Linked DNA regions of Homo sapiens. The protein of the gene in region 1 purifies or fractionates together with the protein of each later gene. This does not show direct contact. Each region holds a gene or a part of one and is shown on either strand. Other genes may lie near its edges.

Evidence for each region. The genes of interacting proteins can lie anywhere in the genome.
Region 2: the proteins of PRR14 (region 1) and PPP2R5C purify together in Homo sapiens (affinity purification with mass spectrometry; 2 studies listed by BioGRID and IntAct, with this or other methods). This does not show direct contact.

What each region holds. Positions count from the first base shown.
Region 1 is NC_000016.10:30,653,960-30,656,913, forward strand, and holds the end of PRR14 (proline-rich protein 14), read left to right. Parts: intron 1-270; coding exon 271-380; intron 381-669; coding exon 670-1,255; intron 1,256-1,391; coding exon 1,392-1,461; intron 1,462-1,542; coding exon 1,543-1,634; intron 1,635-1,908; coding exon 1,909-1,980; intron 1,981-2,072; coding exon 2,073-2,352; 3' UTR 2,353-2,454; downstream 2,455-2,954. UniProt on the Homo sapiens protein: Functions in tethering peripheral heterochromatin to the nuclear lamina during interphase, possibly through the interaction with heterochromatin protein CBX5/HP1 alpha. Might play a role in reattaching heterochromatin to the nuclear lamina at mitotic exit.
Region 2 is NC_000014.9:101,908,209-101,911,708, reverse strand, and holds part of PPP2R5C (serine/threonine-protein phosphatase 2A 56 kDa regulatory subunit gamma isoform), read right to left. Parts: intron 2,121-3,500; coding exon 2,019-2,120; intron 1-2,018.

The DNA of each region.
Region 1 (2,954 bases):
AGACAAGATATTGTTTTAAATTAGTTGGATGTGGTGGTCCATGCATGTAGTTCTAGCCACTTGGGAGGCTGAGGTGGGAGGACTGCCTGAGCCTGGGAGTTCAAGGCTGCAGTGAGCTGAGATTGTGCCCCTGCACTCCAGCCTGGGCCACAGAGCAAGGCTCTGTCTCAAAAAAAAAAAAAAAGAAGAAGCCTTAAGGGATAGGGGAGTTGCTGGCTCAGGTGGGATACCTGGAAGTTCCCCTAGCCTTTACCTTGCCCTTCACCCCAGAGCTGAGCCCATGAGGATAGTTCGCCAGCCAACGCCTCCACCTGGGGACCTAGAACCCCCATTCCAGCCATCTGCTCTGCCTGCAGACCCTCTGGAGAGCCCACCAACAGGTAAGGACTTGGGTAGAGATCGGATGAGACTTGGGTGTCTGGGACATCCTAGTTGAGCTTGGAAGTGTCAGGTACAGAGTTGGGGATAGGGCTTAAGCCACCTCCCAGGGCAGGGCTTGGTATATAAAGATGGGATGTTGATGTCAGAGGCTTGAAGTTCAATTCTTAAATGCAGAACTTAGTGTTTTAAGGGTGGGCTAATTCCCCTGTGCACAAAGTTGAGCATGTGGGGAGGGGCTGAGACACTGCAGCCAAGGAATATCCACCTGTGACCCTCTCCTTTCCTCAGCCCCAGATCCTGCTCTGGAGCTCCCATCCACCCCACCACCGTCCAGCCTTTTACGCCCCCGCCTCAGTCCCTGGGGCTTGGCCCCGCTCTTCCGTTCCGTCCGCTCCAAGCTGGAGAGCTTTGCTGACATCTTCCTCACGCCCAACAAAACCCCACAGCCCCCACCCCCGTCCCCCCCAATGAAGCTGGAGTTGAAGATCGCCATCTCAGAGGCCGAGCAGTCTGGGGCTGCTGAGGGCACTGCGTCTGTCAGCCCCCGGCCCCCAATCCGCCAGTGGCGAACTCAGGACCACAATACCCCAGCACTTCTCCCTAAGCCCTCTCTGGGCCGAAGCTACTCCTGCCCTGATCTGGGGCCCCCTGGCCCAGGTACCTGCACCTGGCCACCTGCTCCACCCCAACCAAGCCGACCACGGCCGCGGCGGCACACTGTGGGTGGTGGGGAAATGGCCCGAGCCCCGCCACCCCCTCGGCCCTGTCTCCGGAAAGAGGTCTTCCCTCTCGGAGGAGTGGGAGCCTCCCCTTCTCTCACCACATCTTGCTCGTCCACGGCATCCACTTCCTTCTCCGAACCAGCAGAACCCAGGTAGTGCTCTCAAAAAACCCCCTTGAAGCCTGGCTGCAGCCTGGTCCCAGCCTCCTTCCCTGAGTATCCAGTGGGCAGGAGACGGGGGATAATGCAGTGAATCCTGTTTGTCCCTGAGCCTTGACCTTCTTGGCAGGTTGGGTTCAACCAAAGGGAAGGAGCCAAGAGCCTCAAAGGACCAGGTGCTTTCAGAACCTGAGACCAAGGTAGGCATTCAGATCGGGTAGAAGAGACTAGTGGGGGCCTGAGCCCATGTCACTCTTTCACCCTCTGCCCCATTTTTGCAGACCATGGGAAAGGTTTCTCGATTCAGAATACGCAGAACACCAGCCCGTCCTCAGCTAAACCTTACACCAATGGGACTGCCTCGACCAATCAGGTGAGGGGCTCACTGGGCATTGAGCCATCTTGGCCAAACAGATGCAGGCTTATGTCCCCTGAAGTATAGCTTTGTCTCCCCTCAGGGAGCACAGTCCAGCCTGAAAGATTCAATTCGGTGTGGGGATGGTTTGTGCTCAAAATTGCCTGTCTGCCTTATGTAGCACTCCTGGCCCTGACATGTCCCAGAAACTGAAATACAGACCAGGCCTTACCTGTCCCTTCAGGCCCCACTGGCCCAAGGTTTCTCAGTGGCCTCTGCTCTTTGCTCACAGGTTGAACAAGAAGGAGTTCAGCTTGGAAGAAATTTACACCAACAAGAATTACCAATCACCCACAACCAGGAGGTGAGACACTTGGAAGGCTAGAGGGTGGCAGAGGGAAATCTGGAGCTGTGGAGCACCCTGATAAAACCAGCTCCTCTCCCTGCCTTGTTCAGGACCTTTGAGACCATCTTTGAGGAACCCCGGGAGCGCAATGGGACTCTGATTTTCACCAGCTCAAGGAAGCTCCGGCGGGCTGTGGAATTTCGGGACAGCAGCCTTCCTCGATCACGAAGACCGTCCCGTGGGGTCCGGGCTGCAGGGGGCAGGACTGTTCCTCCCAATGTGGCCCCCAGCCCTGATGTGGGCCCCCTGCTCCAGCAGCGGCTGGAGGAGCTAGATGCCTTGCTCCTGGAGGAAGAAACAGTAGATCGGGAGCAGCCCCACTGGACCTAGGTGCCCCATCTGTTGGTCATCCATCCTGAAGGGACAGGAAACCTCCCAGGCAGTTATTTTTTTTTCTCTATATTTCTAGTAAAGTTTTCGATATGTTTCTGATTCTTTTGTATCTCTAGCTGAGTTTAAGATTGATTTGGCTGATGTTTCTACGTTGACCCCCAAAGGTCTGGGAACTGGGGCTGGTGCTAGAGATGGTGACAGGGGTTGGGTACAGAGTACAGGGAGGGGGTGAAGTGGTCACTTGAGATAGATAGATAGATAGATAGATAGATAGATAGATAGATAGATGATAGATATAGATGGAGTTCCGCTCATGTCACTCAGGCTGGAGTACAATGGCACGATCTTGGCTCACTGCAACCTCTGTCTCCCTCATTCAAGCGATTCTCCTGCCTCAGCCTCCCAAGTATCTGGGATTACAGGCGTGCGCTACCACACCCGCTAATTTTTGTATTTTTAGTAGAAACTGGGCTTCACCATGTTGGCCAGGATGGTCTTGAACATCTGACCTCAGGAAATCCGCCTGCTTTGGCCTCCCTAAGTGCTGGGATTACAGGCATGAGCCACCATGCCCGGCCTAGAGATACTCTCTTGCTTAG
Region 2 (3,500 bases), on another chromosome or scaffold:
GTTTCACAATATTGGCCAGGCTGGTCTCGAACTCCTGACCTCAAATGATCCACCAGCCATAACCTCCCAAAGTGCTGGGATTACAGGTGTGAGCCACTGCGCCCGGCCAGGATCCAAGTTTTTCAACCCAGAAAATGTACTACACAACCTTTAAGGTCCTGTTGGGAAAGCTGTGGGATTCCACGAGAGGAGGATCTGCCATCAGAAGGCCCTGCTGCTTGCATGCTTCCTACCTGCGAACTGCACTGAGAGCTGAGATGAGAACAGACCATGCAGCTGGCAGCTCTAGAGGAATGGCTGGTCTGTCTCCCCGGCCCTTTCCTGACTGACTTGTCATCTCTCATGCTCTATAGTTCACTTAGGTGTATTTTGTGTTCTTTTATTTCCCCACACTACCCAGAATATAAACCCCAAAAGGGCAAGGATTTTTTTTTTGAGACGGAGTCTCGCTCTGTCGCCCAGGCTGGAGTGCAGTGGCGTGATCTTGGCTCACTGCAAGCTCCGCCTCCAGGTTCACGCCATCCTCCTGCCTCAGCCCGAGTAGCTGGGACTACAGGCACCCGCCACCACACCCGGCTGATTTTTTTTTGTATTTTTTTTTTTTTTGAGACGGAGTCTCTCTCTGTCTCCCAGGCTGGAGTGCAGTGGTGTGAGCTCAGCTCACTGCAAGCTCCGCCTCCCAGGTTCACACCATTCTCCTGCCTCAGACTCTGAGTAGCTGGGACCACAGGCGCCTGCCACCACGCCCGGCTAATTTTTTGTATTTTCAGTAGAGACGGGGTTTCACTGTGTTCGCCAGGCTTGTCTCGAACTCCTGACCTCAGGTGATCTGCCTGCTTTGGCCTCCCAAAGTGCTGGGATTACAGGCATGAGCCACCATGCCCGGCCTTTTTTTTTGTATTTTTAGTAGAGACGGGGTTTCATTGTGTTAGCCAGGATGGTCTCGATCTCCTGACCTCGTGATCTGCCTGCATCGGCCTCCCAAAGCGCTGGGATTACAGGCATGAGCCACCACGCCTGGCCCTTTTTTGGTATTTTTTAGTAGAGATGGGGTTTCACCGTGTTAGCCAGCATGGTCTCAATCTCCTGACCTTGTGATCCACCCGCCTTGGCCTCCCAAAGTGCTGGGATTACAGGCGTGAGCCACCGCACCCGGCCCAGGGGCAAGGATTTTTGTGGGTTTTATTCATTGCTATATTGCCAGAATCTAAAACAGGGCCTGGTGTATAAGGTAAATATTCACATATTTGTCTAAGGAATGACTAAATGGCAGTTGTTTCATATATATACACACACACACACACACATAGATACACACATATGTATACAGTGTATTTTGAATTACATTCGTGCAAAGCTTATCTACCTTAGCCAGTTTTAAGTGACAAGCAAAAAATAAAATCTGCCAATAGTCCATACTCAACTTGGAAGAAGTGACCTCCAACAACTATTTAATCACATTATTACTTGCACAGCCTAGGGACGAAGTACTTTGTCACTTAGATCATCCCTGGACACATGTGGGCTCAAAGGCACGAGGGCAGGACCCTGATTTTGCAAAGGACAGACTAGATTCCAGAGAACACCCACATCGCTGAGTTCATTAAATCAGAATAAAGCTACATTGAAATGAAGATTCTTGCTCTCTGGGATAAACCTTATAGGATATAATTCAAATCCCTGCCTTATAAACATGAAAATGGACTACACATTATAGCCTTTAAGCCCATTATAGCCCAAGAAAAGAAAAAATTCTGAATGTTAAATTCTTGCTTACATAAGCACTTTTTGCAAAGATGATTAATCTGGCAATACAAGGGGGGAGAATAGCTACCTTTAAACACCTGTTCTTTCAAAATACGTTATTATAACACAGTTTTAATTTGCTTTCCAAGTATGAAAGGCTTGGTTTTGCTTTCGAGTGAAGAATACCGTTTTAGGACAAAACAGTGGAAGAGGTTTACTTAGGATTAAGAAAAAAATCCTGGAAACAGTAACTTGTGAAAGGAACAACTCACTTTAGTTTCTCTGCTTTGAACTGTTGTGTACAGTCATCAAATAGCTTTTGGTTCATCTCCATGAAGAGCTTCAGGGCGTTGTATATCAAGCCATGTATTGTCCTATAAAGAAAACCGCACGGTGAGCCTGGGAGCACGCATTCCTGCTGAGCCCTCGCCTCTCCACTCTCAGGCTGCTCCATATTCCAACAGTCCCACATCGCACAGGATCCCTAAGGTCTAAAATGCAAGGCCTGCTCATTCCGCGTTACTTGTTTTCTGACAGCCACACATCCCGAGACTTTCTTCACAGTGGCTCTCACATAGCCACAGAGGCCACTCCACTCACTGTCTCCAGCTGACAGTAGCCAAAAACGACCTTGCTCAGAAACTGAATTAAAAACATTGAAACTTGAACAAATATAGTTAAGACAAAATTATAAAGAGGACAATAATGGCAATACTTGATTTCCTATAAATGTCAGTTTCTTTTCATCTTATTCCCTGAGGACAGAAAAATTAATTTTAATAATGGCAACACAGAGCTTTGAAAGAGAAAATAAAATGAGCATAAAACAGCTTAATCAATGCTTAGCTCTCAGGCTCTGACACGCATGGAGAGGGAAAGAGGCCAAATTGTTCCAGCTGAGCCTCTGGGTGACTCTAGTCCCAGCTGCCATGGGACTGCAGCCCTGTAAGAGCCCCGATCCCCCAGCAGACACCAGCGAAAGCCTGCGCAGCAGGACCTGCTCGACCCGCAGGACTGTGAGCAACAGGTGCCAGTAGCTAAAAACAAATAAATCCCAAAAAACGTAACCCTCAAATCATAATTCCTTCTTAATCCACTTTGTAATAAAACCCAAGTTGTACTTAGAAAACACTTAAAAGAACATTTTTTTCTTTGCAATGGGCGGGGATTGGAAGTCAGTTATGAATTGTGCTGACTTACATACTAAACTAAATTACACACAAGAAACATGGCGACACTCCAGGGGCTTTGTTGTCATTGTTGCGATTAAAAAAAAAAAAATCAATGCAAGCCAGGCGCGGTGGCTCACACCTGTAGTCCCGGCACCGTGGGAGGCTGAGGCGGGTGGGTCACTTCAGGTCAGGAGTTCAAGACCAGCCTGGCCAACATGGTGAAACCCCATCTCTACTACAAATGCAAAAATTAGCCAGGAGTGGTGGCTCATGTCTGTAGTCCCAGCTACTTGGGAGGCTGAGGTGGGAGAATCACTTGAACCTGGGAGGTGGAGGCTGCAGTGAGCCAGGATGGTGCCACTGCACTCCAGTCTGGGTGACAGAGCAAGACTCCATCTCAAAAATAAATAAATAAATAAAATAAATCAATGCTACAAAGAACAGGTTGTTGAGGGTGGATGTGCTGTATTAACAACTACAACCACCACGCTATTGCCATGAGGGTCTTGGCTGCTGCCTCCACTGCTATCAGCATGGCTGCTGGCCCTACAACCACTAAGTGACAGCAAATGCTTACTTGGT